Linked DNA regions of Homo sapiens: all the other regions are reported to be linked to region 1. The links are microRNA targets in miRTarBase. Many come from high-throughput screens and were not tested one by one. Region 1 holds a microRNA gene; each other region holds the end of a gene's coding sequence.

What was found. The annotated mature microRNA hsa-miR-519a-3p reads AAAGUGCAUCCUUUUAGAGUGU and lies in region 1 at 4,839-4,860, opposite strand. An mRNA with a match to its seed (bases 2 to 7 or 8) in the 3' UTR can be bound and repressed. Matches are read on the target gene's strand: a 7mer-m8 pairs with bases 2 to 8, a 7mer-A1 pairs with bases 2 to 7 and ends in A, and an 8mer does both.
Region 2: miRTarBase lists PRPF4 as a target of hsa-miR-519a-3p. The part of its 3' UTR that is shown has no 7-base or 8-base seed match.
Region 3: miRTarBase lists SGMS1 as a target of hsa-miR-519a-3p. Seed matches in the 3' UTR shown: 7mer-m8 at 3,314-3,320.
Region 4: the mRNA of U2SURP is a reported target of hsa-miR-519a-3p. Seed matches in the 3' UTR shown: 7mer-m8 at 1,803-1,809.
Region 5: miRTarBase lists DAD1 as a target of hsa-miR-519a-3p. The part of its 3' UTR that is shown has no 7-base or 8-base seed match.

What each region holds. Positions count from the first base shown.
Region 1 is chr19:53,761,041-53,767,256 of GRCh38, reverse strand. MIR519A2 (microRNA 519a-2) reads right to left here and starts at 4,913; the gene lies at 4,827-4,913. MIR516A2 (microRNA 516a-2) reads right to left here and starts at 6,124; the gene lies at 6,035-6,124. It overlaps LOC124904766 (a long non-coding RNA gene), which reads right to left. Exons shown (of 2, transcript XR_007067335.1): 2 at 3,058-3,661. It also overlaps the pseudogene RNU6-165P.
Region 2 is chr9:113,290,499-113,296,714 of GRCh38, forward strand. PRPF4 (pre-mRNA splicing tri-snRNP complex factor PRPF4) reads left to right here. Exons shown (of 14, transcript NM_001244926.2): 11 at 1-90; 12 at 202-309; 13 at 400-518; 14 at 969-2,407. The coding sequence ends at 1,162. Among named protein-coding and RNA genes, the nearest start is that of RNF183, 9.8 kb to the right of the region's middle.
Region 3 is chr10:50,302,315-50,308,530 of GRCh38, forward strand. It overlaps SGMS1 (sphingomyelin synthase 1), which reads right to left. Exons shown (of 11, transcript NM_147156.4): 10 at 5,668-5,834; 11 at 3,286-5,007. The coding sequence ends at 4,828. Among named protein-coding and RNA genes, the nearest start is that of ASAH2, 54 kb to the left of the region's middle.
Region 4 is chr3:143,055,129-143,061,344 of GRCh38, forward strand. It overlaps U2SURP (U2 snRNP associated SURP domain containing), which reads left to right. Exons shown (of 28, transcript NM_001080415.2): 28 at 1,184-5,597. The coding sequence ends at 1,322. Among named protein-coding and RNA genes, the nearest start is that of U2SURP, 57 kb to the left of the region's middle. RefSeq lists an enhancer at 6,022-6,091.
Region 5 is chr14:22,569,153-22,575,368 of GRCh38, forward strand. It overlaps DAD1 (defender against cell death 1), which reads right to left. Exons shown (of 3, transcript NM_001344.4): 2 at 5,907-6,081. The coding sequence ends at 5,951. Among named protein-coding and RNA genes, the nearest start is that of LINC02332, 15 kb to the left of the region's middle. RefSeq lists an enhancer at 1,142-1,864.

The sequences.
Region 1 (6,216 bases):
TAGTTGTGAATTGGAGGGACGTCCGTAACAGCTGATCAACATGTGAAGATACTGGTACTTGATAGCCTCTTAAGGAAAATGTGCTTCCAAATTTTAAGCTGGAAAGTCGCCGGAATAACTTTGTAGAAGAATTACAATACATGGCCGGGTGCGGTGGCTCACGCCTGTAATCTCAGCACTTTAAGAGGCCGAGGCGGGCAGATCACCTGAGGTCGGGAATTCGAGACCAGCCTGACCGACAGGCAGAAGCCCTGTCTCTACTTAAAAAAAAAAAAATACAAAAATTAGCCGGGCATGGTGGCATTTGCCTGTAATCCCAGCTACTTGGGAGGCTGAGGCAGGAGAATTGCTTGAACCCGGGAGGCGGAGGTTGCGGTGAGCCGAGATTGCGTCATTGCGCTCCAGCCTGGGTGACAAGAGCGAAACTCTGTCTCAAAAAAACAAAACAAAACAAAACGATTTACAATACATGGCTTTTTAGATTTTCGGTACGTATGTTAAGAATTGTGTACAAATTGAAATGTCTGTACCGATCTTCAACCAATAAAATCTCAATTATGAAAGAAAAAAGTAATAACGTTCCATCTATTGTATCCTCACGTGAAGAATAATTCCCACACTTAAGTGCTTGCTTTGGCAGCACACATTAAACAATGAAATGATAGGTTCCCACGGCCCCTGCGCAAAGGTGACAGCCAAATTCATGATGGGTTCCGTATTTAAAATTAGGGGAAAAAAATTTCTCACACTTAAACAACAAATCACTTCTTGTTCGAGTAGATTCTAGATATGCTGTTAATCTGAAATACAAATTTAACCGGGTTTCCCTGCTCTGGGAAGCCCCCTTTGGCAATTCAGATAAGGGTCTTTTTTTGGAAGGCAATAGGTAGGAATACGGAGATGTCAGCAAAGGGAAGGGGCTCTCAGGGATTTCTATGGATTGTGCAGATGTCCTGCGAGGTCCCAAATTTCCCCAAAAGATCCTGAGTCCGGGCAGAAAGGACCACTGGGCTCCAGAAACCAAATGAAGTGGCCCAGAGTGGGAGCCTTTGTCATCAGATTCCATGACTGAAAGACAGCCAGGAGCAGAGCAAAAATCCCAGGGACTCTCTCTACCAGAAGACACCTGCTCCATCCAGATCAAACCCAAACTGTCACCAGAGAATGATGCCTGGCACTCCTTTCCCCTCGGCTCATCCTGCCTGCACCAGTGCAATGCCCTGGTGTTCCCAGTCCAGATGCCTTCACTCCATCCAGTGCCCCAGGAGGGTCACCTTGCAGTTATCAGAGAGGAAGATGGGTTCTTCCACCCTTGTGAGCTTCCCAGACATCAGGGTGTGCCCACCCCACTCCATTCCGAAAGGATGTTCCGCCCAGTTCTCCCAGCCTCCTGCTTCCATCCAGGGACCATCCTTCATTGGCAAGATTCACACTTCAGACAACCAGAACCAACCCATTATATTAAAAGTGGTCACAACAGGCCACCCATTCAAGACTGGTTTTTGTGAAATGCCCACAAGAGGCAAATCCAGAGCTAGAGAGATGTAGAGTAGTTGCCAGGGTCTGAGTGGAAGAGGGGGGTGGGTACTGAAGGCAAATGGGTATAAGCTTCTTTGGGGTGATAAAAATCTTCCAAACTAGAGTGGTGGTGGTTGCAAATATGCTAATGTTCATTTGTAGTCCAAACTACCAGAGACCGTGGAGGGGCAGAGGCAGGAAGATCTCTAAAGCCTAGTTTAGCCCGGGTGGCATAGCTAGACCACTGTCTCTAAAATAGAAAAATTAGGCTGGTCATGGTGGCTCACGCCTGTAATCTCAGGACTTTGAGAGGCCGAGGCGGGCGGATCACTTGAGGTCAGGATTTTGAAACCAGCCTGGCCAACATGGTGAAACCCCGTCTCTACTAAAAATACAAAAATCGGCCGGGCGTGGAAGCATGCGTGTAATCCCAGCTACCTGGGAGGCTGAGGCACAATAATTGCTTGAACCCGGGAGGTGGAGGTTGCAGTGAGCCGAGATCAGGCCAGTGCACTCCAGCCTGGGCAACAGAGCGAGGCTCCATCTCAAAATAAATAAATAAAAATAAAATAGAAAAATTAAATCAAATGTGCATTTATGATGTGGTCATGCGCCCTACATTTCAGCTTCATTTTCCCAATAAAAACTCAAAGCCCATGCACTCCACCTCCGTGCTCTTGCTAAGCAGTGCACATCCCACCTGCAAGGGACACTGAGGTTCCCTTCAGCTCTACCTCAACCCAAGTCAAGGGAGGTTCTGTAAACCAGTGCAGGCATAACTTCCACGGAGTAAAAGGTGTTGAGGGCTGGACGAACAGGCATCGCTCACTACGGCAACAACGAGAGCTGCCTCGCATCCCACCTGTTACTAGGGAGCCCCTTCTAGGGCCCTAAAGGCTTTCGTGAAAGTATCTGTGGTTGGCCGGGCACAGTGGCTCACGCCTGTAATCCCAGCACTTTGGGAGGCTGAGGTGGGAGGATCATCTGAGGTCAGGAGTTCCAGCCTGACCAGCATGGCGAAACCCCGTCTCTACTAAAAATACAAAATTACCTGGGCGTGGTGGTGCATGCCTGTAATCCCAGCTACTTGGGAGGCTGAGGCAGGAGAATCGCTTGAATCGCCTCCAGGAGGCGGAGGTTGCAGTGAGCCGAGATCGCACCATTGCACTCCAGCCTGGGCAACAAGAGTGAAACTTTGTCTAAAAAAAAAAAAAAAAAAAAAAAGGATCTGTGGTTTTGTCTTGTGCGACATTTATCACTGCCACTGAGATTCATCTTGTCTACAATAGTTTGTTTCTTATATTAGCCACAGCAAACATTTCACATCTTACCGAGCAACTGACACTTAGATGTGAGCTTTTGCCCGGTGGAATGGTACCTTGGAATCGTTACCCATAGAAAATAGGATAAAAGAACTCACTGGGGTTGGCATTAGTGGGTAAGGGTTGAATCAACCACACCCTTCCTGCAGAGAAAGCAGGTCTATTCCGAGAAATGATGGCAAGTTTTTGGGGAAGAAAAACTAAAGACACAAATGAATAGGAAAAAGAAAAGAAATTTTATTAATATTGACAACCGTTGGGGATTACAAAATAGACTGGATAGACGTGGAGGCGTTCTTAGTCTCTTAATGAAGGACACATGATTTGGATTGATTACACTAAATTGATGGGAGGCTAGTGTTTCAAATGACCAACCCAAATGAAGTCTCTGGGACCAGGTGCCAGGTGCCACGTAATCTGTGTTTTTAAAGAGATGGGATCTTGGTATGTGGTCCAGGCTGGCCAACATATGCTCACAGGAAGAACAATTCCTACACATAAGTGCTTGCTTCAGCAGCACACATAAAAATAAATGAAATGGGCCGGGCACAATGGCTCATGCCTGTAATCCCAGCACTTTGGGAGGCCGAGGTGGGTGGATCACCTAAGGTTGGGAGTTCAAGATCAGCCTGACCAACATGGAGAAATCCCATCTCTACTAAAAATACAAAGAATTAGCCGGGCGTGGTGATGCATGCCTGTAATCCCAGCTGCTCGGGAGGCTGAGGCAGGAGAATCGCTTGAACCAGGGAGGTGGAGGTTGCAGTGATCCGAGATCATGCCATTGCACTCCAGCCTGGGCAACAAGAGGGAAACACCGTCTGAAAAAATAAGTAAATAAATAAAAATTAGCCGGCCTGGCGGTGGCTGCCTGTAATCCCAGCTACTCGGGATCAAAAGTGTGATCAGCACATGGTATAGCCTGGAAATCAAAGGACCCTCCCACCCCGGCTTCTGCAGTAGCTGGGACTGTGTGCCCCATGATGCCTGGCCATGTCAGCTACGTTTGAAATGGGTCATCAGGACAAGGCGGCTCACACCTTTAGGATCCCTTGAGCTCAGGAGTTGAGACCATCTTAGGCAAGAGAGATTCCCTTTCTATCAAAAATTAAAAACTATCGGCCGGGCGCGGTGGCTCACGCCTGTAATCCCAGCACTTTGGGAGGCCGAGGCGGGTGGATCACGAGGTCAGGAGATTGAGACCATCCTAGCTAACAGGGTGAAACCCCGTCTCTACTAAAAATACAAAAAACTAGCCAGGCGTGGTGGCGGGCACCTGTAGTCCCAGCTACTCGGGAGGCTGAGGCAGGAGAATGGCGTGAACCCCGGAGGCCGAGCTTGCAGTGAGCCGAGATCTTGCCACTGCACTCCAGCCTGGGCGACAGAGTGAGACTCCGTCTCAAAAAAAAAAAAAAAAAAAAAAAAAAAAATTAAAAACTTAGCCAAGTGTGGTGGCATGCCCCATGTAGTCCCAAAACTTGGTAGGCTGACTTAAGAGGACCACTTGAGGCCGGGCGCAGTTGCTCACGCCTGTAATCTCAGTACTTGGGAGGCAAGGGAGGTGGATCGCTTGAGGACAGGAGTTGAGACCAGCCTCCCCAACATGGTAAAACCCTGTCTCTGCTAAAAATACAAAAATTAGCCGGGTGTGGTAGCCCACACCTGTAATCCCAGCTACTCGGGAGGCTGAGGTGAAAGAATCACTTGAACCGGGGAGGGGAAGGCTGCAGTGAGCTGATAATGCACCACTGCACTCCAGCCTGGGTGTCACCACCAGACTCTCTCTTGAGAAAGAAAAATAAAAAAAGACCTCTTGAGCCCAAGAGATCTAGGTGGGAAGTACCACCGCACTCCAGCCTGGGCAACAAACACACTGTCTTGGAAAAAAAAACAAAGCAAAAACAGAACCCAACATCATCCAAGTCTGATGATAAGCATGCTCTGCAAATGTATTACCAAAATCAGCATCAACTTCAACGTTGCTTTTCTCAAACAGTAACACTCTAAAAGGATGCACTTTCCTTTCTTTCAGACAACAGAAAGCGCTTCCCTGTAGAGGGACACAGCCTGAGATCTTCTTGCTCCGGCACTGTGGATTTTTTGTTGGAATCTTCCTTGACCAGGTCAAAATGGACACAAAAATAAAGATGCATTTATTGGCCCTGTTTGCGTGTTTTCTGGAATCCAGAGCATAAATCCCTAAAAGGACCATTTCCAGTTCCTTGCTTCAAAGAATCAGCAGGTTAGTCCTGTTCATCAAGGGGCAATCCTCCTGTGTTTTGTCTCCAGAAAGAAAAAGCAATGCCTACTAGATATATATTATATTTGCACAAGAGGATTAGGCTGGATTTCTAGAGAACAGCAAATGGACTCTGAGCCAAGTCTTCACTTGCGTTCCAGTACAGGGACACACAGTCCCCATGGAGGCACCCAAAATGGAATCGAAGATGTTGAAGAATATACATTGTCACACACACAAACATCCTCCAGGACAGACCACAGGCGAGGCCATAAAAGCTCCTTAATAAAATTTGAGCAGAAACACACAAGTAAGAGTAGGGCACGGTGGCTCACACCATTAATCACAGCAGTTTAGGAGGCCCAGGTTTGAGGAGTACTTGAGCTCAGGGGTCCGAGACCAGCCTGGGCAACATGGTGAAACCTCATCTGTACAAAAAATACAAAAGTTAGCAAGGTGTGGTTGTGCATGCCTGTAGACAGGTATTCAGGAGGCTGAGGTGGGAGGTGGAGGTTGCAGTGAGCCAAGATCGCACCACTGCCCGACAGCCTGGGTGACAGAGCCAGACTCTGTCTCAAAAATCAATCAATCGATCGACAATAAAAATGCAAAAATTAGCCAGGCGTGGTGGCACATGTCTGTAACCCCAGCTGCTCGACAGGCTGAGGCAGGAGAATTGCTTGAACCCAGGAGGCAGAGGTTGCGGTGAGCCGAGTTCCTGCCACTGCACTCCAGCCAGGGCCACAGAGCAAAGAAGACTCTATCCCGAAAAGAGGGCCACTTGAACCCAAGAGATCTAGGTTAGAAGTGCCACCGCACTCCAGCCTGGGCAACAGATACCTTGTCTTAGATAAAAAAATAAAACAAAAACAAAACCCCACCATTATCCATGTCTGATGATCAGCACGCTCTGCAAATGTATTACCAAGATCAGCGTCAACTTCGACGTTGCTTTTCTCAAACCGTAACCCTCTGAAAGGAAGCACTTTCTTTTCTTTCAGACAACAGAAAGTGCTTCTTTCCTCGAGAAGGTCACAACCTGAGATCTTCTTGCTCCAGCACCGTGGGTTTTTTTTTTTGGAATTTTCCTAGATCAAGTTAAAATGGACGAAAACATAAAGATGCATTTATTGGCCC
Region 2 (6,216 bases), not on the chromosome of region 1:
GGCTCAAGAGGAGATCCTGCATCAGGAAGGCCATAGCATGGGTGTGTATGACATTGCCTTCCATCAAGATGGCTCTTTGGCTGGCACTGGGTAAGGCTTCTCCCATGTAGTCAGGGGCAGTTCAGTACTCTCACCTCTTACCTATACCTGCTTCCACAGAGAACTGGATTCAAAGTGTTCATTTCTAAATTATTTTCTCAGGGGACTGGATGCATTTGGTCGAGTTTGGGACCTACGCACAGGACGTTGTATCATGTTCTTAGAAGGCCACCTGAAAGAAATCTATGGAATAAATTTCTCCCCCAATGGGTAAAATAAACACACTGAATGAGGGGCGAAAAAGGGTTCTGGGTCAGTAAGTACTCTATTTCTAACTTCAATACTGCATCCAATCCACAGCTATCACATTGCAACCGGCAGTGGTGACAACACCTGCAAAGTGTGGGACCTCCGACAGCGGCGTTGCGTCTACACCATCCCTGCTCATCAGAACTTAGTGACTGGTGTCAAGTTTGAGCGTAAGCTTTCCTCCTATTTTACGTCTAAATGACACAGACAAACAGTATTGTGTTCCCGTGGAATGCAGGCCAGGCTTTAGCTTAACTGAGCAGTAAAACAGGAGAGAAATTGACCTACTGGTAAAGGAGCAAATTATAATTTCCTTCCCTCTGCCATACCCTTAGATCTGTGGGAAAGCACGCTTCTCGTTGCAGGAAGTAAAGCAGACTTTCATGAGTGCTTTGCTTCATTCTTTCCTCCATGGATGCTCTGAGCACTGAGTCCTTAATATTATTCTGAATAGATTCTCGGTCAGGGAATGAGCCAAAAGACCTTACTGTTATTTGTTCCCTTAAGTCTGTAGAAACAAGTTTTTTTAAAAATAGTATGTTTTTGCAGACTTTTGTGCTTTTGTCTTCTCTTTTGAATACTTGAATTCCTCAAGCAATTCCCCTTCTCTTCTCCTGTAGCTATCCATGGGAACTTCTTGCTTACTGGTGCCTATGATAACACAGCCAAGATCTGGACGCACCCAGGCTGGTCCCCGCTGAAGACTCTGGCTGGCCACGAAGGCAAAGTGATGGGCCTAGATATTTCTTCCGATGGGCAGCTCATAGCCACTTGCTCATATGACAGGACCTTCAAGCTGTGGATGGCTGAATAGATGACAATGGGAAAAGGACTTGAACCTCAAGCTCTCTCTAAGGAGCTGTTTTCCTCAAACGAGAAGAATTGAAGTGTTTAGTTCTATCATGTTTTCTGCCAATTACCATGCATAGACCCTCAGTAGAATTGGATTTCCATGTCAGCCCCCACTCCAGGAAGGCAGCCCAATCCCTAGGTGATGGGGAACCCCTCTCACGGTTGAAAATTTATTACCTTTTTACGCCCTGCCACGAACTGTGTAGACATTGTTTTTATTAATCTTTTGTTTGGCCGGGCGTGGTGGCTCACGCCTGTAATCCTAGCACTTTGGGAGGCCGAGGTGGGTAGATCGCTTGAGCTCAGGAGTTCAAGACGAGCCTGGGCAACATGGCAAATGCCGTCTCTGCAAAAAAATACTAAAATTAGCTGGTCGCGGTGGCTTCTGCCTGTGATTCCGGCTACTTGGGAGGCTGAGGTGGGAGGGATTGCTTAAGCCTGGGAGGCAGAGGTTGCAGTGAGCCGAGATTGCGCCATTGCACTCTAGCCTGTGTGACAGAGCAAGACCCTGTCTCAAAAAAAAAAAAAATTTGTTCGAATGCCTTATAGCCTTCCTCACAGCACCCAGGATTGTGACTGACTCTGCATTTTTAATTCTTGAAACTTGGCTTTCCATAACATGGTACATGCTTCAGGACTACATATGACCCAGAGAGCAAGGTGGCTGAACTATAGTCTGGAAGCCCTCAGGTAAAGAGGCACATCTCACCACTCATTGGTTAAACAATGCATCATAGCGAGCACTTTTCCTTTCCCTGGAGAATGGGATGTGAAGCAGTAGACCGCAGCCACGCCGATGGTTATACAGTGAAGAAGACTTCACCTCTTCCTATTGAGTTTGCTTGGAATGCTGACAGCATCAGGCAACTCTGAACTGAACATTTGCTTTGTCAGAAAATATCTTTTTTTTTACTTTGAAGTTTGGCAACCTTCATGTTACCCCAAAGCAAAACCATTGTGTCAGGAGTCAAACAAATGTTTAGAAAGCAAACATGACGTCTCTATTGTACAACCTCCTTTCTCTTGGCTGTTTAAAGGATGTACTTCGTGTATTAAAGGGTACTTTATGTTGAAGTAACGAAAAAACCCTAATGGGTGTTCCTAAACCTAAACCTTTTCTTTATTCCACATTTGCTACGGTAAAATCCTGTTACAAAACTACCCTATAAAGAATTATTTTCTATAGTTAAGCATTTTCTGAATCCTAGCCATTGGTCCATAGAGGTCTCTTTTTTTTGGTTTGGGATATAATGGATGATCTCAAATATGGATTACTCTGATTTATGTCTCCTTAGCACCTTGTTAACAATTTTTTTTAAAATAGAAGGCTGTTTGCATTTTGGGCCAGACTGCCAGTAAGCCAGGCCTGGACTCAATTACAATTCTTAACTTGTCTGTCATGCACCTCTTTTCACCTCAACTATACAGCCTCTGAACTCTCAAATTACACAGTAAATTCAAAAAAATATATAGGAATTTGGAAGAAGAAAAGGTTGTCTACAGAGGAGAGTTATTAAAGAAAGGCTTCTTGGCCGGGCACGGTGGCTCACGTATGTAATCGCTTGAACCTGGGAGGCGGAGGTTGCAGTGAGCCAAGATCACACCGTTGTACTACAGCCTGGGCAACAGAGCAAGACTCCATCTCAAAAAAACTTAATTTGCTGTTGCAGAGAGGTTGACAATGGCTTTGGTCAGCTCTATTCTGTGGACCCTGAATGTGTGATATATAGCCAAACAACTGGTTTGTTTTGTTTCATTTTGAGACAGGGTCTCGCTTTGTCGCCGAGATTGGAGTGCAGTAGTGCGAACACAGCTCACCACAGCCTTGACTTCCTGTGCTCAAATGATTCTCCTGCCTCATCCCCTCATCCTGTGTAACTGGGATCACAGGAGGATGCCACCATGCCTAGCTAATTTTTTTGATTTTTTGGTAGAGACACGATTTCACTTTGTTGCCCAGGCCGGTCTCAAATTTCTGGGCTCATGCAATCCTGCCTTGGCCTCCCAAAATGCTGGGATTACAGGCATGAGTCACTGTGCCTGACCTAAACATACTGTTTTTAATCTGATTTCAATTATAACCAAATAGTTGCATTTCCTATGTAGTTGTTCAGCTTCTGAATTCTCAGGACTACCCTCTGTTGCTCACTTCACTATTGTTCAGGTATTAATGAATTCTATTTCATAGATTATGATGAAAAGAACTTTTTTTCTTCTTTGTAGTATGTGTAAAATAATGAAGAACACTGGTGAATTAGCATGCAATTGGATATAATGTGCTAACAAAGATTTTTAGTTTCTCAGGTTTAAATTTTGCTATTAGTTCCCTTCGACTTGTTTTTCTTTGTTTTTTGGTTGGTCCAAGAGGTAGCAGTTGGGTGAAAACATTTCATCCAAGCCTTTGACAGAACAAATACCTTGTGGGCTATTTCTTCACAGGAATTAAAACATCATTGTAAGAAAGTGGTTAAGAAGCACAAAGCCAGGTGTGGCATTTGTGAAAATGGCAAGATAAACAGCCACCGTTTCACAGAACACTTAGTCCCTACCTAGATGGTATACCAGGCACATTCAGATACCTTGTTTAATCCCCACAATCTTTTGAGTTTATTATTCCCTTTTTATGGACAAAACAGGCTCCAAAAACACTTGCTCAAGTTTAGCCAGCTAGCAAGTGATGGAGCTTGAATTTGAACTGTCATCTGACCATTGATGACCTTATGAAGGTTTCACAGGTTCCCCACACTGGCCAGACAAAAGGACCGGTACAGCCAGCATGGCCTGTTTCCTGTACGAAGTCTGAGCTTTTTAAGGACTCTCCACTTTGTATAATGCCCCCCACCCTTTTTTTTTTTTTTTTTTTTAAGAGATGGGATCTCAGCCGGGCGCAGTGGCTCACGCCTGTAATCCCAACACTTTGGTCAGGAGTTTGAGACCAGCCTGGCCAACATGGTGAAACCCCATCTCTACTAAATATACCAGAAATTAGTTGGGCGTAGTGGCAGGCACCTGTAATCCTAGCTACTCGGGAGGCTGAGACAGGAGAATCGCTTGAACCCGGGAGGGGGAGGTTGCACTTAGCCGGGATCGTGCCGTTGCACTCCAGCCTGGGTGACAAGAGTGAAACTCCATCTCAAAAAAAGATGAGATGAACTCCTAGGTTCAAATGATCATCCTGCTTCAGCCTCCTGAGTAACTGAGATACAGGCACGGGCCACCGTGCCCAGCTTGTATACTGCACTTTTGACAAGTCACTTCCATCTCTGAGCTCATGCCCATGTTAAAGTAACTCTCGCACATCCTGAACGGATGAGGAGCCTATTGTCAACAAGATAGCTATTTGCATTTTTGGTTAGATGATCTTTCATCCTGTGGAACTGGCAACATAAGCATTGCAGCAGGTGTTAGTATCCCAGACCTCTGAGCCCTAAATGTCAGCAGTGCAATTCACCCCCTCCACTGACTACAAAAGATGCTCCCATGCATTTCCAGATACATTCGAAGAGGATGGGACTGCCCCAAGCTAGAGCTACCGAATATGAAAACAGGAGACACCATGATGTTCAGGCAGCCCTCCCTCTCCATCAGCGGGTTCTAGGATTCAACCAACCATAGGTCGAAAATACACTACTGACCATATACAGACTTTTTTTCTTGTTATTATCCCCTACACAATACAGTATAGCAACTTCACATCGCATTTATATTGTATTAGGTATTGTAAGTAATCAACAGATGAATTAAAGTATAGAGGAGGATGTGTGTAGGTTATATGCAAACACTACATCATTTTATATCAGGGGCTTGAGCATCCTCGGATTCAGGTATCTTCAGGAGGTCCTGGGACCATTTCCCCCTGAATATCAAGGGATGACTGTATATCCTCACCTATCGGAAAAACCCTCAAACTTACATCTTGTCTTATTTGGGTGGTGTATCAACCACTCCAAGGATCTAAGTTCTTTTTTGACTGAAAAGACTCTACCACCTACTAGCTGGGTGGCCTTGAACAAGGTGGAGCCTCAGTTCCATCTGTAAACTGGGGATTAAGCTTGCTGAGGTTAGTAGGCCTAGTGCAGAGGCCAGTGTTCCTTCCTGGGCTTTTCTCAGTTTCTCCTGTCCTGAGCTGCCCTCGCCTGTCCGCTTAGCTCAGAGGACATGGTGAGATTATTGCCTAACTTATCTGCCACAAGTTTAAGGAGCAACACTGTGTAAAGAAATGAAGTCAATGGGGAAAGGTGGAGTCCCAGCTTTAGTGTAATTATCTTTGATGGCACAAATGGAGAGATAGTTGCTAGTCCCCTAAAGGAATATGTAGGCAGTTTTGCAACTTTGTAATGGAGACTTTTTCTTCATATTGGAGCTTAAACCGTTTGGTTTTTCTAAATGTGAAATATACGTATTGGATATTTTGGAGTATTTTGTACATTAAAACACCTGGGGGGAATCTAACATTATTTGGAGCAAATCAACCAACTCAAATTCTGGCCTCTGAACGCTTTTTCTGCTTATCAAAAAACCCCCAAAACCTCAAAATGTTATCCTTACATATTTGTGATGGTATCTTTTGTGTGTGATGGTATCGTTTTTTTTTTTTTCCTGAGACAGAGTTTCACTCTGCTGCCCAGGCTGGAGTGCAGTGGCGCAGTCTTGGCTCACTGCAACCTCTGTCTCCTGGGTTCAAGCAATTCTTCTGCCTCAGCCTCCTCAGTAGCTGGGATTACAGGCACGCGTCACCACGCCCAGCTAATCTTTGCTGGGGATTACAGGCGTGAGCCACCGCGCCCAGGCTGTGATGGTATCTTAACCACTTTAAAATTGTTTCAGAGCCTTGAGCCACCAGGCAAGGTTAAAACTGGGGAAACAGAAATCAGAGTTTTAGACACTGCAAGGTTGCAACTTACCAAGCAACAGCCTGAGCCCCCAAATTCTGTCTGATTGGTTCCTGGATTCTATCATGTAAAGTGAAAGCTAGGGTTCCCCCGCTGCCTCCCATGGCCTGGGATGGGAGTTAAA
Region 3 (6,216 bases), not on the chromosome of region 1:
ATGTAGCCCATATTGTGTATCAACAAAAAAAGTCTTGAAAAACTGAGATTCAATCATATGGTTAAACTCTCCCCCTATCCAACATCTAACCACCACACCAATAGAGCTCCAGCAAGAAAAACAGTGGATTACAGTTAAAAGAGATACATGACACAGACCCTCTCTGAGGAGGACTACTTAGGGAAGCCCAAGTCAAAAGGGAGGGCCACAAATACAGCAGAAGAATTTGGAGCTAAGAACCAAAAGAAACTGCTAGAAATAGTCAACATCGTAACAGAAATGAAGAATGCCTTCGATGGGGTCATCATTAGAACAAACATGGCCAAGGAGAGTAGTATCAGTGAGCTTTAAGATATGTCAATAGAAACCTATCAAACTGAAAAAAGTGGGAGGCAAACATCCAAGAACTGTGGGACAATTTCAAAATGTGTAACTTATCATAACGGGAGTATCAGAAACAAAAGAAAGGGAAAGCAGAGAAGAAAGAAGTAATAATGGCTGACAACTTTTCGAAATTAATGACAGACACCAAACCACAGACCCAGGAAGCTCAGAGAACACCAAAAATAAATACCACCCTCACCAAAAAAAATCTACACCTATGCATTTCATATTCAATCTGTAGAAAGGCAAAGACAACGAGAAATTTTTGAAAGAAGTCAGAGAAAAAACATATTACCTATAGAAGAAAAGAATAAAATTATGGCAGACTTCTTGTGAGAAACTAGGTAAGCCAGAAGAAAGTGGAGTGAAATATTTAAAATGTTGAAAGAAAAAAGCCAGCCAACCTGCCCTGCAAGAAATGGGAAGTTCTTCAGGCAAAATGAAAATGATGTTGGTTAGAAGCTTGAACTACATAAGAAGAGCATCAGAGAATAAATAAGTGAAGATGAACAAAATCTTTACTTGTTCTTAATTGATCTGTAAGGTAATTGCTTGTTCAAAGTAATAAATGTAATAATGTGTTGAGTGATTATACCATATGGATAAGTCAAATGAATGACATCAATGTTCTAAGGGCAGAAATGAGAAATTGGGAATGTGTTGTTATAAAATGCCTACACTACACTTGAAGGCAGGCTTGTATTTGGAAAAAAGTTTATATTGTAAACTCTAGGGCAACCATTTAAAAATTCGTAAAAAGAATAACTGGTATGATAAGAGATAAAATAGAATCATAAATTGTTCAAAACTAAAGGAAGACAGAAAAAGGAAGGGATGAAGAGAGGACAAATGCAACAAACAGAAAAGAGTTACAAACATGATAGATATTCATTCAGTTATATCAACTATCACTTTAAATGTGAAAGGTCATTTAATTTCCTTCTGACTTGTACTGTAAACTAGGAGATGGATAAGTATTTTAAGGTGCTGATAAGCAGAATACCAAGTCAACAGCTTTGATTTGTTCAAATTGTTTCTTGACTACAGGGAGAAAAAAAAATAAAGGATGTCAATATCTAGTGATCCAAGCAACATATTGTTTTCTAGTAAATTCAGAAATCTGGTTGACTTTTTGTATATTGGTGGTCAAATTAAGGTTGGCATGCATTTCCATTGTATGAGGTATTATGAGATATTTATCACATTGATCAAAATTTGGCATGTGCTTGGGATACAAATAAAACATATAGCAATTAGGAAATCAGTCAAATTTTCCTCTCACACCTTATGGTGTAAATTTCTTGCTCCTCAGTCCATGGTGAGAGTATGCTTTACCACCATAGGCATAGGTTTCTCTCACTGCAGACTCTTACTGAAGAGTTTATGAAAGCTCACAGTATTGATGGGGGAGGGGGGAAACTTGGCTTCCAATAGGACTTTTACCAGTTACCAGTTGCATGCCCTTGGGCAAGTTATTTAATATATCTGAGTCACTTTGGTTGGTCTATCTGTAAAATGGCAATAATAATTACACTTTGTGGATGTGTGAGGGTTAACTAATACATGTAAAATGTCTAACTTAAGTGAGCCAAAAAAAAAAAAAAAAAGACATTGAGAAAGCACATGTCCTTATACAGGCAATCCTTACCAAGTGTACAATGATACTCTAGAATACAATGAGCTTTCTCCTTGTCCTTCCTGGGATTTGCACACTAGAGACCCAGAAGATATGTCAATTCATGAATCAGTGTAGTCAGCCATGAAGAACAATCAGCAGTGGATTTCTTGATACATATGTGGCATGTAAACTCATAACAAATTTTTATATAATGATTTCTAGTTTTTTAGGGAAAAAATCCTATTTTTAGCAAGTGCCAATATATCATTTCCACTTACTCAATTTACTTTCCCTTCAATATGGCAGCAGCTGATAGTCAAAGTTAGTGAAAGGCTATAACAGTTAAATAAAGACCTATCCAAGGGTTTGGCTCTATTTGCCTAAAGAGGCCACCACATTTCCCCTGTCTGATACACAAGTTTAAAGCCCCACACAGGAAAAGTTTTACTGGTTCTAATTTCCTTTTTTTTTTTTTTCGGAGATAGAGTTTCACTCTTTTGCTGGGGCTGGAGTGCAGTGGCACGGTCATGGCTCACTGCAGCCTCTGTCTCCCGGCCTCAAGCGCTCCTCCCACCTGTCTCCTGAGAGGCTGGGACCACAGGCATGTATCACCGTGCCAGGTTAATTTTTGTATTTTTTGTAGAAACTGGGTTTCATATTGATCAGGCTGGTCTTAATCTCCTGGGTTCAAGTGATCAGCCCACCTCGGCTTCCCAAAGTGCCGGAATTACAGGCGTGAGCCACCACACCTGGCCTCTGGTTTTACATTTCTAGCCTCCTTAACACATCCTTTATCAAAGACACATCTCCACTGTTGACATTTTCCTTTAGTCACCACATCAGAAATAATAATAACCTTTTATTCTTTTTAAATAGTTATTTTCCATTACCACTGGTTTATCATAGTACTATTACTCTATTTCTCACTTTGGATTTACTTTTCCTTTCCATCTACACTGGAGAAGCTATATTACTGCCAGATATAGGAAAAAAAACAATTTGGTTGAGAATTAGAGAATTCAAAATGTTAGTAAACATTGTTCTAAAGTTTGAATTTAACTTACATGTGACTCTTTTTATATATTAAAAAACTCTCTAGAATTTACTAAAGATTAGAATATATTTTAAGGAATCCCAAGGAAAAAAATCCAGATAATTATTAAAAGTCCCATGTCAAGCAGAAACACTCCATGAAGAAATTCTGAAACTGATTTTCTATCTTGCTTTAATGGCTCCATTTATGACTTCTGTGAAGAATGTGAACACAGTAGAAATAACAGCCATTTATTTTAAGTATCAGTTTTTATTAAAAAGTGCATTTTGATTAATTTATGATCTAGGTAAGCTGTAAGATACCAGTATACTCTCTGGAATAATAACTTTACAAAGATTTAAAACAAACAAAATTTTAAAAGCCTTTTTATTTCCTTCACCATTATTGTTTTACAATACAAATATCACCTTGTGAATACACAAAAAAATCCTACGGAAGATAATTCTGCTGCACGTAAAATACAGAATGGATATATATACTTCTTCATTCTTAAAAAACTATTTTGTTCTCCACATTGGCAAGTATAGAATAGAATACTTCCCCAAACATATGTATGTTAGGAGTAAAACTTAGAGTTACATGCAGTTTCTGCACAAATATCTTTTAAAGAAATAGATCTCTTTTTTGTTGTTCACCAACAAAATTGTCATGAGAGTATGGATAACTAATTCATAGCTTTCAAGTTTTAGGTAAGTGATCATTTTCAAAACTCTCTTTAAGAAAAGATATTCATGGCTGTTTTCATTGAGTAGTTAAAATTGAACTACCAAATCGACGATAAAATAATTTAAGTGGTACATGTCATTGCTACCTGATCACAATATGTGAACAGGCTCTGACTCTAATTAACAACCTCATTATTTAAGTCATTGCAATTTTAAAACCATAAGCAGTCTTCTGATTCAATTTAGCTATAAATGCAAAATTTAGTAGTGTATACATATATTTATATTTTCAAGGAATACTTTATTTTAAATAAAAACATTTAAGATTGCCTACTGACCATACAATCAAGACAAGAAAGGCACTAGAAACATAGACAAATTTCTCTCCCAAGATGCATTTTTAAATTTTAACTCTCTTCTCTCTGACATGTTAAAAATCTTTAAATTTGGTGTTCATAACATCATTTTGAAAAATAAAGTTAGGAAATACTTAGAAAATCACTTTATAACAGAATCTTTTTTTTTGCACTTTTTGAAACACTGCCTTTGCTGATTTTACAAAACCCAAAGTTACCAAACCTTTCTGTGTCTATCATTTTTATTTGAATATCGGTGCAACAGGTAGAAAGATTTCAGAATCAAACCCCATTCAGGTACTTAGAAACCTTCATAGAGACATTTGCTAGAAAATGGCTTACAGCCCAATCTTTGGGGCAAGAGATATGAAAAGTATGTTTTCCCAAGAAAATAATACGCTTTATTTCCAGATGTGACTGGAAAGACCAGAACTTATGATATAAAAGCTTACATTTATGCTGCTGCATCATATACAAAGGAACATGGTGGTTGCGGGTTATGTAAATCCCAAACTTATGAACAGGAAATGTGTACAGTGCATGATAGGTTAAATTTTTCTTTATTGTTGTCCAACGCAGGTCCTTTGGAGAGAAAAAAAGATCACAGTGCTGACCAGGTAACTCAATAGGTTAAGTCAAGGTAACCATTGAAAGATAATAGGATTAGGGAGGTGTTTATTTTATGGCATCTTCTCTCATGGAGTTCTTAGCACTTCGGACAATTTGTCTTTTCCCCACTTTGTACAGCTGTTATGTGTCATTCACCAGCCGGCTGTATTTAACTTGCCTACTGAGGTGGACTACTGGCCAGGGGAAAGGCCAATGGTAAGATCGAGGTACAATTCCTTGGACATTCTTTTCAAAGTACTGAAATGGCCTGTACCACCACACCCTGGCCAGGAGGTTCATCTGGGAAGCTTCCTTTAGCACCTAGGATAACAAAGAAACATAAACACATTTCTTACAATCTTTCACTTTAAGTTCAAATACTTGCCACGCTAAAATTCCCAAAGGACTCCATACCTGCCCTGCGTGTCCACCCACATATCCCAGCTTCTCTCTCTCATCACCATTCTACACTCCACATTCATCTACAAACTGAGCCACATCCCAGTAGAAAAACAACGCCAATTCTGGGAGGGCAAGGAGAACTTATGGCTCACTCATCTCTTGCTTATAAATAAACACCTCAGTTAGCTTTTTAGGTATTCCTCTTCTATGCTAAAAATGTTAACACTTAATTAAATGTTAAATATTAAGCTTGTGATGTGCCCCGGGTAGGGAGAAGAGGATAGGAAAGCAAATCAAGCAAGGAGGGACACAAGCTTAGAAAATATTTTTCATTTTTCAAGGACAATGAAAGTGCGTTCCTTATTCTAGAAGGAAGTAATTCCTCACATCATTATATTAATAAACTTTTTATTCTTAATTCTGAAGAGAATCAATGTCACAAAAAAACAATACAATCTTAGTTGATTACTACTTAAGAAAGAGAAACTTCAGACATCCACAGGTTCTTTGCACCCTGTCCAAGCCAGCAACATCAAGCCAGAAACAACAGAAGCTAAAATCAAAAGCGGGGAAACTCACTTGCTGATTGGCCATAGTGTGATACCACCAGAAGAGTCTCGTGGTGATGTAATATGCCACCACCACGTCCACAGTGTAGTGGTCATGCGCTAAGAGAATACAGAAGATTCCAACTACGCTGAGAAGCCAGCAAATCCAGTGATACCACCAGAGTCGCCGAGGGGAATCTGAAAGGGGGAGAGATTTGCAATAGTCCCATTATTCAAATGACATTAAGGGCACCCAACTATGCCTCTACTAATGCTTCTGAATCCAATTACCTTGAGTCTTCCCTTCTGAAAACAGATCTAGTGAATCTAAGGGCTGTCATTTATCTGTAACCAAGGTTAGAACAGAAACAGCTTTTTATGATGTGATTATACTAGTGATAGTAATTCATATTTGGTTCTTACTTGATTCATACAATCATAAATAGAGTTTAAAAGATGAGGCTAATCAAATAAGGACAGGTTAATGCATCATGTTTCGTTTTTAAAAACTGTCCATTGACATTTAAATTTACCTCTAGCTAATTTGGGGTTGATGCTCTACACAAAAATCAATACCTTT
Region 4 (6,216 bases), not on the chromosome of region 1:
AGTCATTTTTGCTAATATTTCAGATACCAGTTTCCTTGTCATTTCATCAGCTTTTGAAAATAATTTGGTTGGCATACATTTTTTTTTTTTTTTAAGGATTTTAGAAAACCAAAGAGATACACTTTCATTTTTGGTTATTCCTCCCCACCTCCTCATCCCAATCTCTTTCATGACTGAAGTGAAGGCTTCCAACAAGTGAGGACCAGCCAAGAATTTTAAACATCATATCCAATGTTTTCTGTGGAATAGGGTTAGCTGCTTTACTTTTCGTTCTGTTCTTTAGTTTCTATAGAATATTATTTGATTTTTGTCAAAGCTGAAAGAAACACACATTTTTCCCCCATAGCAATATTATTAGCAAGTTCTTGGGTAGATATTTTTGGAAATACATATCATGAATACCATTTTTTCAGTATGTATTTTAGTATTTTGTATACTTTTTTTTCCTTTAGTTCCAGAAAAATGGTTCAGAAATGTTTTATTTATCTGGTGATACATAGAGGAATTTTCCTGAGAGCTAAAACTGCTTTGTATGCTAATACTTTATTATTGTAACTATTTTTAGTAAAATCTTTACAGAATAGATACCTTTCTCCTTTTCTAAATGGCACCTGTATATATATGTATGTATGTGTTATATATGTATGTATATGTACATGTATCTTTATTGGTTTAAGTAATCCTTCATGAACAGCACTTACAAAATTATGTCTTAAATGATGCCCTTGAATGATACTGCAGTAGTTGTTTGCTTCAGGATGATAAACTTCAAAGCTGCTGTGTTTTTTAAATTTTGTGCATGATCTTAGGTGCAACTTTGAACTTTATCTTGTAGATTAAAGGTTCAAATTTGGGGGTTATCAGTCACTTATGGAGCTTGTTAAAAATGCAAATTCTTAGTTCCATCCTCCAGAGATTTTGATTCAGTAGAGCAGTGATAAGGCACAGAAATCTGTCTTTATAAACAAGCGCTCTACTGATGATCATTGATGCAGTGCATAGTAAGTACAAAATAATCTGTGTGTGTGTGTGTACAATAGAGTTTAAATTTTAGAAGTTCATAGTCTTATTGCAGTGATTTTTCACTGTGCCCTGTTAAAGATCATTTTCGATCGTTTAAGGATAAACAGTTTTGATCACATGAGTACTTTATCAATTGGGATTTTTTTGTTTGTTTCCTTAGATCACCATCTGGTTCAAGGACACCTAAAAGGTCTAGGCGATCACGGTCTAGATCTCCTAAAAAATCAGGAAAGAAGTCCAGATCCCAGTCCAGATCTCCACACAGGTCTCATAAAAAGTCAAAGAAAAACAAACACTGACGTAAATTTTTAAGATGCTGTCACTTATTGGAAATGCGATTTGTTTTGTGCCTGAACGGTCTGTTTTTTAAAAAAACAAAAAATCAAATGAAAGAGCATTCCTGGGGTTTTTTGTTTGTTTGTGTATGCATGTGTAAACTCATGAGCAACTGCATCTGTAGATCTGTCATTGTTTTATATTGTGTAAATTACTTTCATTGTGGCTATTTCTCAAGATGAAATTTTTATTGTTCTAATGGATTTCATCAGAAATGTGTATAATGGATCTGCTGACAGTAGTAGTATTTTGTTTTAGGATGTTGTGACTTAGCAAAAATAATACAGATGTCTTCCCCCCTTTTGTAGCTTTGACAATTTGAATTAGATTTCAAATAAAATCTGAACAGAAAACTATAATGTTGTTTTTTTGCCCCACCGGTGATATTAAGTCCCTTAAAGTCCTACTGAGTTTCACACTACTGTTGTGCTTCTTATACCTGATGCACTTTATAAGCCCCAGTGTTCAAGTAGCTTAAGTTTTATATTTACTAAGATGACTATCCAAATTAAGGGACCTGAGACTCCTATTTGGTGGTTTGCTAACCATTTGCTTTTGATAAGTTTCTCTTGGGTAATACTAATACCCAGATATCAAAGACTAGGTAGATATGGCATGGCGTTTTGTTAGTGGAATGCCTGGCTAAAACATTTTTTTCACAGAAGCAATATGATTTCCATACATCCAACCCATGTTCTGAGCAACTACTTACTTTTAGGGGGAAATTAAATATCTTTTCATTTCCTCTTCTATTATGAAAGAAGTTTATTTGTAAAACAAATTTTCTAACAAGGTTTGGCCATAGAATTCTCTTGTATGATCGTTGACCTTTTATAATCTTCTGTAGGCTATCTTTCAAACACTGGCATCAGAATATTTTTTATAAGTTTGTGTTTAAACAGCTTAGTTGGTCCCCCCCCACTCCCAAGAGACTTGGGTTTAGTTATAGCTTTAAGTAAAATTTAAAAATAAAATGTTTTTCAGGAAACTTCGTATCTAATGGTTTGTAAATTCAAGGTGCAAAAAGTTGATTTAAACCATTTGCAGAGTTGAACTCTATTATGAAAATAAATTTGCTACGGTATGAGGAAGAAATAAAACTTGTGTAATGTTGGTCATAATACTGCTATAAATATAATAAAGGGTTATGTAGAATTGAACTGACACTATTATTTGTGAATCTTGATTTCAGTTTTTTATGTAGGCACTTCATACACTGGTTTGATGGGTTTTTTTTTTCCTCCCTAAAAGAGAAAGTAGAAAACTATTCTAACAATGGATTATTTTGATTTAGCTTGCTTTTTAAAAAAATCTTTTCAACTTGTTTTACTTAATCTTGCCTAGTCACAAAATAAGATGTGCACCCATGGTTTGGAGAGTTCCTATATTAGCTGAGCAGTGAGATACACTATTTCCAAACGGTGCACACCTACAGTAGCTTTGGAAATGAGCCAATCACTGTTTTACTTAATGGTTCTTATCAGCATGCAAATATTGCTTGAAAGTTATTTCCTTATTCACTGTTTTGTTAGTCCATTTTGTTAGGAAACATTAATTCCTAAAAATTTGTTCAGAATAATTAAAAGTGAACATTTGGTGCTGATACTCAAAAACCTACAAATGTAGCCATTTAAAAAGTAACATGTTTTTCTCCCCTGCTCATTGCCTGGGAGAATGGAATTTTATATAACTACCTTTCTTTGCAAAAATAACGGTCGTGTCGAGTTGGTGGTGATTTTGGCATTCCATCTTGCACTGGTTTCTAGTATAGGCTTAGAAATAATTGGTCAGGTAATAATCTTTCCAGTCAAGTTGCAAGGGATGCTTATTTCTCTTCAAAAAAAGACATCCTGCGGGATTGAGTAGAAAATTTTAGGTCAGTTTTGGGTGCTTATTTGTAATATTTTTCCTACTACATTGGAGTTTAGCAGTTCTTTTTTTCTGGATCCAGATACAAGTGTCATGGTTTATCTTACAGTGGGTGAAACTGACTTTCTTTTGGTTGGGTGGGTGAGGATTTCTTAGGCCTGATAGAATATATATTCTGTGAAGTTTGTTAATGTACATATTAGATTGTATTGGATTTTTTTTTCTTGAATTGCAAATGGTATTATTAGATAGGTTATTTCCAGTTTTACTTCATGACAAATTACCTAGAGTAAACCTACTTAATACTCCCATGGATTCTATGAAAGTTTAATGGGATCAGAAATTGGTGACTTATAAGGGGGAAGATATTCTACCATATTTTTATAATAGCTTATTATTCATGTTTCTTGTCTGAAGGACACTCAAGTTACAGAGCAAAATTTCTATAGGTTGACTAGAATGTTCATAAGCATGGTCTTCCAGTTGCAGGAAAGATCATGTTCTATCTGTGGACACTTACTGTCCTCTACCACAGCTACGTGCCAGAGTTGTTTTCCACAGTTCTTATAAAGGGCATGACTTAGGCTCTTTACCCTCCAACTTAATGTTTATACACAGGGATTGTTTACTAGGTTAATGACATTTAACTCCCCTCTCTTCTGTAGGTGAGAGAAAATAAGTAAGTCTTGATCTGTTTCTTACCAAAGAGAGACAGACCTATGATGGAAAATGATCACGTCTCTGAATTTTTTCTTTAACGTTATAGTTCCTTATTACAGATAGTAAGCATATGGGAATTTCTGAGCTATAACATGTTGAGAAGTTAGAAATTAAAACTAACACAACAAAAGGCGCTGAATCAAAAGATCTTTGCTTTTATTTGGCTCAGAATGTTTTTGGCTTTTCTGCTAAAGATGGCAGAAATTACTCTACACAGACCTGATTTTTCTTTATTGCAGACCATTCTTGTGGGCTTACCCTGAGACTTTTATCCCAATTAGTGAATCTTGGAGGGAATACTTGCTTATTTATGACTTAGGTATTTCCCCCCAAACTTTAATATTCTTGAGCACTTGAAAATACTTTTGAGAAATTTTAACTGTGATTAAATTTAGGTTTATTAGAAATATTCTGTACACATTTGCCTCCATGGTGGCGTAAGTTCTGAAAAATTATATGACCGTGACAATAGTTTATCATCATCATTATTGTTATTCAAAATAAGGGTAAATAAATCTCTGTATTGCCAAAGTGACTTAAACTGTTCTGATGACCACACAGTGTGATTTCTTTAGCAGAGAAAGTTGGTTTTAAAAATAAATAGTACCACTTTTCTAAGACTGTACAGTTTACAAATAAGGTTTTTTTCTTTGTTGTTTTCCTCTTCTATTAAGTTTTAGTGAAAAGCCTAATTACAGAAAATTGTGCAGATACTAGTGAAGATACTAGTATAAGTTTAAAGGAACACGTGACTGTAAAATCTCACATTTACAAAGTGCTTGATCTCTTCATATTTCACACGCATGTTTTAGAATAGATTTTAGGGAGTGTTTAATTCATTATCCTTTTGACTTAAAATTTTTGTTACCAACTTCCTAGGACTTAGATAATATATAAATAAGTACAAATCCCAGGGGAAGTGTTGTGATGCTAGACTAAAAGGTGGGAATGTGCTGCTGTTCCGTGAGCCTTGTTCCATTGTTGAAAATTTGATGCCTCAGTGTTTATTCAGTACCACCTCATGGAGCTTCAATGTAAATGGATTATATGTATAATTGGTAATTTGTATAGTTTTGTAGATTGTAGATTAAATGCACTCATCATGTCACATGTAATTGTGCTTGGAGTATTTGTGTTTTATTCTTTTACTTCAACGGGTTCTTGTCTGTTACATCTCTGGTGATTTGAAATATCAGGAAAGACAGTTTGTCAGAAATGAGAATAATATAGTTGAAATCAGTTGGGCTAAAATATTCTACAGCAAGACAATTTCTTTTGGGTGAACTGATTCTATAATTTACTTACTTTTAATGTAAGGATTAGATTTATTGTTGAGCTGCTTTCCAGATCAGACTGTCACTTTATAGTTTTTCTACATAAAGATTATATAGTTGCAAACAAAGGTTGTGAAATTTCCCTTTTGTTGTTTTTGACTTTTAATTAATAAAAGTACATTGTTTTCATAGCAAACTTAGACTGTCCATGTAATTTTCTCCATATTGTTTTTCCGATGCAAGCCCAGTTAATAATTAGTTTTTTAGCAGCTTTCTCTCAAGTGAAATAAGTGATGTGACATGTTTATCAGTTATGGCTAAAATGTTACACTTTACATGTTTAAACTATAATCATATGTTTTCATGCTAGATGGTTCTCTTGGTTAGGAAAGTTCATTTCCTTATTGGTTTCCTTTTTTAAAAGTTATTTTATTCTGTTTAATTGAGGAAAATTTTAAACATTCTACAAAAGTAAAATAGTACAGTGAACCTTACATACCATAAACATGCAGATAACAACTTACATGTATCTCTAAATACTTTGTTTTTAAAACATACCTGCAGTGTCATTGTCACATTAACAAATCATTGGGTCCTTTTAAAAAATGACATTTAGTTATTTTAATTGTGAGAAGATGCTCATAACAAAATTTACCTCTTAACAAAGTGGTGTTAGGTATACTCATATGATTACGCAATTTCCAGAACTTTTTTTGTGTTGCAAAATTGAAACTCTGTACCCATTAAACAACTCATTTCCCTCTTCCTCCCCTGTCTCTCAGTATCATCATTCTACTTTCTGTTTCTGAATTTGACTACTCTAGATACAACATATAAGTGAAATCATACAGTATTTGTCTTTTTTTGCGACTGTTTTATTTCACTTGGCATAATATCCTCGAGGTTCATCCATATTATAGCATGTATATTGTTTCCTTTACAAAGCCCACTTTTTCTTTAAGTTTCCATATTATGGAATTTGAAAATGATTTAG
Region 5 (6,216 bases), not on the chromosome of region 1:
GGCCGGGCACAGTGGCTCATGCCTGTAATTCCAGCACTTTGGGAGGCTAAGGTAGGCAGATCACAAAGTCAAAAGATAGAGACCATACTGGCCAACATGGTGAAACCATGTCTCTCCTAAAAATACAAAAATTAGCCAGGCGTGGGAGCACACACTTGTAGTCCCAGCTACTCAAGAGGCTGAGGCAGGAGAACTGCTTAAACCCAGGAGGCGGAGGTTATAGTGAGCCAAGATCATGCCACTGCACTACAGCCTGGACAACAAAGCGAGACTCCGTCTCAAAAAAAAAAAAAAAGGTTTATTCATTCATACACTCATTCAACAAACACACACTGTTACTGTTCACAATTGAGTCCAGTGGGAGAGAGAAGAAAGTGAATGAATAGTTTCATAACAATGTGATAAGTGCAGCACTGGAGGAATGCAGTAGACTAAGGGCTCCTATGCAACCTGAGGGGTGGGAATGACTTGGAATAGGAGTCATCCAAGCTGGGAGGATGGAGAAAATAAGGCAGTAAGTTAGGGCAGCAATGAAATTCATAAATATAAATCTATTTCGATATTCTTTTTTCTTTGGTAGCCTTAAATACACCAAATATAAAATAGAGTTCAATAAACAAGTAAAGTCATCAATTAGCACTTTTTAGCAAATAAAATAAGTAGATTCAAAGTTTTAAGAATGAAAGGTAAAGAACTAATCTCAGAGCCAGGCACTGTGACACACCTGTAGGTCCAGCTACACAGAAGCCTCAGGCAGGAGGATCACTTGACCCCAGGGAGTTCCCAGCTTGGGCAACGTAGCGAGACCCCAGCACATAAAAAAATATATAATTAATCTCACCTTCTAAACAGAGAAAAATGAGTTGAAAAAAGTTATGATGTGACTACCTCAGATTTCCTACAAATGTAGGACAGTTCCCTCTGAGAGAGCTTATTTGGCGGCAGGACCTAATTCAATATAAGGTGGAAATATCAAAGAGAAAATGAAATAAAAACTAAATGGGCCCCTCCACCAACAAAAAATTAAAGATTATTGCGTGGGAGGTCACCATTGAGAATAAAAGACGTAGAACAAACCAAAAAAAGAAGCTCTCAAACTAAGGAGGTGAAAAAAAGAAATCAAACGGGAAACCTGCGGGTCTATGTGCACAGTCTTGGTCTTCCCCCACACAACAAAATCTAGGGCCACTTTAGGGTTCTATGCCCTTTTGTTCCTAACTCGACATTGCCCACTTCTGGCCAGAATGTAAAGCAACCCCCAACCCAGCATCTAAACCCTCCTGGACCTCTGCTGCCCCCCAATGACTGGAAAGAAACTAGGTTTTTTAACACAGGTATCAGTAGCTTCTTCCCCCAAACTCAACTCCTCATGTTTTGTAGTAGCCGCTCAACACATGAAACATACCATCCACTAGGTGGCAGCAAAGCCCACAGAATAACATCAAGTTCCCCTTCCCGAGGTAATTTTCTAGATTACTATACTTTAACTGAATTCGAAAAGCCAACATAATTTCATGTTTGTAAACAGTGCTGCCAGTCAGAGTTTAAAATGTTCTGCCCAACCCTGTAGCCCCCTTGTTCCAGCTAGGATCAAACACTGAATTTTTTAAGACTTGTGAGAGAATGGTCTCCATTATAAAAACAAAACAATGCTAACAAGGCACAGGCATTTGGCAACTATCTCCCTGGGAGCTGAGCACATTTTCAAGCAAGGTTTTGTCCCTTTGGGCCCAGTTCACCCTTCCTTCTGACCCAGGGCCCAATTCATCAGGAACTTTAATTCTCAAACTGTGATCCAATACAGTTCTGTCCTTCTTTTCCTCATTACCCTTCAGAACACCTGAGATGGACTGAGATTTTTTTTTTTTTTTTTAAAAAAGAGTTTCACAGGCCAGGTGCAGTGGCTCACGCCTGTAATCCCAGCACTTTGGGAGGCCAAGGCGAGTGGATCACGAGGACAGGAGTTCAACACCAGCCTAGCCAACAGAGTGAAACCCCATCTCTACTAAAAATACAAAAACTAGCCGGGCAAGTGCCTGTAGTCCCAGCTACTCGGGGAGGCTGCGGCAGGAGAATTGCTTGAACCCGGGAGGCAGGGTTGCAGTGAGCCAAGACTGCACCACTGCACTCTAGCCTGGGCAAGACAGTAAGACTCTGTCTCAAAAAAAAAAAAAAAAGAATTTCACAAAGAAACACAGAAGAACAAACATGGAAAAAACTAAAGTATATACATTTTTAAATACTGAAATCCACTGAGCTTCTTTCTGTCATGGATTCATTCAAAAATATGCCGCCACCTACACAACAAAAACTGATCATTTCAGGTGTGCATGGATTTCTGGGGGTCAGAAGCTCACTGGGAGAATTTTTGCTTTTGTATTTTCATTTGTATAGTCTAAAAAATAAAAAATATTGAGTCTTTCTTGATCACCTGGATAGATACATTAGTTGTAAGATTTCTAGCAAGGGGCTCTTTTTTTTTTTTTTTTTTTTTTTAGAAAACAGAGTCTTACTCTTGCCAGGCTGGAGTGCAATGGTGCAATTCGGGCTCACTGCAACCTCCGCCTCATGGGTTCAAACGATTCTCCTGCCTTAGCCTCCCGAGTAGCTGGGATTACAGGCACCGGCCACCACGCCCAGCTAATTTTTGTCTTTTTAGTAGAGACGAGGTTTCACCATGTTGGCCAGGCTGGTCTCAAACTCCTGACCTCAGGTGATCCACCCACCTCGGCCTCCCAAAATGCTGGGATTACAGGCATCAGCCACCGTGCTCAGCCATCCTAGCCAGGCTCTCTCAACTTCAGTTCCTCATCTGTAAATGAGAACAGCAAGCCTATCCTCGTGAAATTATTCTGAAAATAAAATGATATAGAACAAGAAGTACTTAAAGCATAGCACACACTGAGCACTCATTATCTGTTAACTTCCTTACTTCCCCTTGAATTGTTTATTTTTTTAACCCAATGCCATTTTCTTTTGACCTGCCTCTTTCAGAGTAGGTTAGAGTTTGTCACCCCCAAATTCATGTAAGATCAGCTATATTACAGAATTTTTTTTTTAATATCAAACTCTCAACTTAGTTGGAAAATATAAAGACATTCAATCTGTTTTGTTCTACCTTCTGAGCTGGTATAAATATTGAGAATTTACTTGGAACTATTTTTAAAGTGCTGTGGCACAGTGCACATATAGCTGAGTTAGAAGCACATAAAAGGAGCAAATAAATGTATATTTTTAAAAACTGAGAGCAGGACAGTATAGTATAATTCAAATGAAGGATCTCTATGAAAAACAATCTGGGCAATCCCCCAGAGAGAAAGATTTTTCTATGAACATACTCTCCATAGAAAGATTTAACACTGCAATCTGGGATTGAGGATTTTGCTATGCTTTGGGCCCATAATTCCCAGCTGAGCAGGTGGTCCTAGGTTGTTAATATGGTCTGCAGTACACAGTTTCTGCTGAGACTGCTTTTTTGTCTTTGCTTTTGTCATAATTTTGAAATACTAAGCTCTCTGCAGTAGAGTCTTCCTCCAATCATGACAGCCCTAAGAAATAATTTTCCATGATTTGGTATCTCCCTGAGCCTAGAAAACATCCTTGAAATGTTTGCTGTGTCCCCTTCCTAAGTACACACCATGACTCATCTAGAAAAAAAGAACTTCAGAAATCTAGAGTAAGCAATCAGAAGACATGACCTTTCCAGAAGGCTCTATCAGGAAGCCCAAGGGTTACTCATATTTGCAAGCGTGAGAAGGTCAATGTTGGTGGGTCAGTTTTCTACCTGCATTCAAGGTTATCCACTGGTAACAGTTCATTTTAACTAGCAATAGCTGTTATCCATTGCTCAGATAACTCATCTGCTGTCCCTGCTCCCAGATGGTACAGCTGCTCTCTTCTCTGGATTTTTGCAGCACTTTGTTCAAACCTATAGCGAGGCCCTAAATGGGCTGTATTTTAACTGTTATGTTTACGTATTCTCCCCTACTAGACTGTACATGTCTTGAAGGCAGAAGCCACACTTTTGGGTTTTTTTTTTTAATTGAGATAGGGTCTTGCTATGTTGCCCATGCTGGTCTCAAATTCTTGAGCTCAAGCAATCGCCCACCTCGCCTTCCGAAAGTGCTGGGATTATAGGCATGAACCACCACGCCCAGCCAACAATATTGTTTATATTCCCAACAACAAGACATTGGCTGGCACATAGAAGGGGAGGGAGGAAGGGAGGAAGAGGATAACTCAAGTCTTAATCAGGTGTCTAATGAGTTAAATTGTATTAAAATAACAGAACAAAGTGGTTCTTAAAAGTTTTTCACTGTTGGGAGGCCAAGGCGGGCGGATCACCAGGTCAGGAGATCGAGATCATCCTAACACGGTGAAACTCCGTCTCTACTAAAAATACAAAAAATTAGCCGGGCGTGGTGGCGGGCGCCTGTAGTCCCAGCTACTCGGGAGGCTGAGGCAGGAGAATGGCATGAACTCGGGAGGCGGAGTCTGCAGTGAGCCGAGATCGCACCACTGCACTCCAGCCTGGGTAACAGAGCGAGACTCCATCTCAAAAAAAAAAAAAAAAAAACAGAAAAGAAAAAAAAAAAGTTTTTCACTGAAATAAACCTCACTGTCAACTTACCACTACCAAAATGATACCTTACCTGAACTAACAGAACTGTTTTTGAGGCAGTATCAAAGGAAAGGATTTAGGTAACATATTATAAGTAAATGACTAATTCATGTCAGAAAAGGAAGTATAGTCACTTCCACATTATTGCATCCACTTTGCACATAGATGCTCTAACTCTTATACTAGATTTCTGCTGGTTAGTATAAAAATGACAGCTTTCCAAGTGGTGACAGGAAGAGGTTGGTCCTAGGATATCCTTCCCCCAAATAGGATGAGATCTCCTAAGGTTCTCTTTTCTCTACCACCCAGAACATTACATTTTGCAATGCAAAGGCAAAGATTGCATGCATTCATCAGTAAGCTACATGGGATACCGGAAGGAGTACGGGGCCAAGAACACCGCTAGACTAGGGCACTTCACTGCAAACACTTAACTATGTGGCCAGGGAAGGCCAATGGATTGTTCTAGGCCTCTGTTGTCTCATATATAAAGTAACAGTGTTGACATACGGTATGGAAAACAGCCATATATTTATTAAAGCTTTAGAACTCTGCTTGGGAGGGAGCGATTTAGGGGAGGGCGTACCATATGTGATGAAGGCCAAGCAGAGAGGGCTTTTCAATTTCTGTCCATCAAAAAAAACTCCAATTCTACTTCTGCTTTATATACCAAGATTCTTTTTGTAAGAGTTTGTTTGGGAGAAGGGAGAAAGAACTCTACTGCTAAAAAAGTGAAAATGGCAAATGAACCAAGCAGCATCCCATCTTATATTTTAAAGTCTTCTCCCAAGTTAACCCAATTTCCCCATTTATTTCTACTTTAAGGCACATATTAGCAAATGCCCACAGTCATTCATCCAACATACACTGGATGCTATCAAATTTAAGTGCTATGAAAACAATGGTCCAGCATTAAAAGTCATCTGAGATCAAAATCAGAAAAAAATTAACTAACAAATCTAAAGGCAAAACCTACCATTTATGTCTCTTCCAAAATCTCCGAGTTATTTTCGTGGAGTTATTGGTACAGAAATTATTGTACTAGCTACAAACATTAATTTTCTATTACCTTAATGATTTGAAGAACAGAAAGACAAGGCAATGACCAAGAGCAGTAGCACTGATGAATTATGATGATATTAATGCATACTTTGCAGACCAATGGAAAATTCTGCAAATGTCAATAGCAGTATGGGAGCCTGGCCAACCATGATCAAAACCAGTCCCATCCAATTTCTCTTCCTAAAATCAACATTATAGGACAAGGACTATGATCATCACTTACATTCTTTTAGTCTCCTACTCCTCAATTAAGTAAATGAGAATGATTCAGCCAACAAAGTTCATGACAACAAGGTGCAGGATGGTGCTGGCAAAGAGAAAATCAGCAAAGGCTCGCTCTGGGGAGATGCCTTGGAAATCCGCTTTGTTCTGTGGGTTGATCTGTATTCTCAGGCAAACTGCACAAGAAGCAAAACACAAAAAAATGATTATATAGAAGTATAAAATAAATATGCTAATGAACACAGACATACCCGAGGACCCAACAATTCTACTCTAACAGAAATGAATGCATATATACATCAAAGGGCATA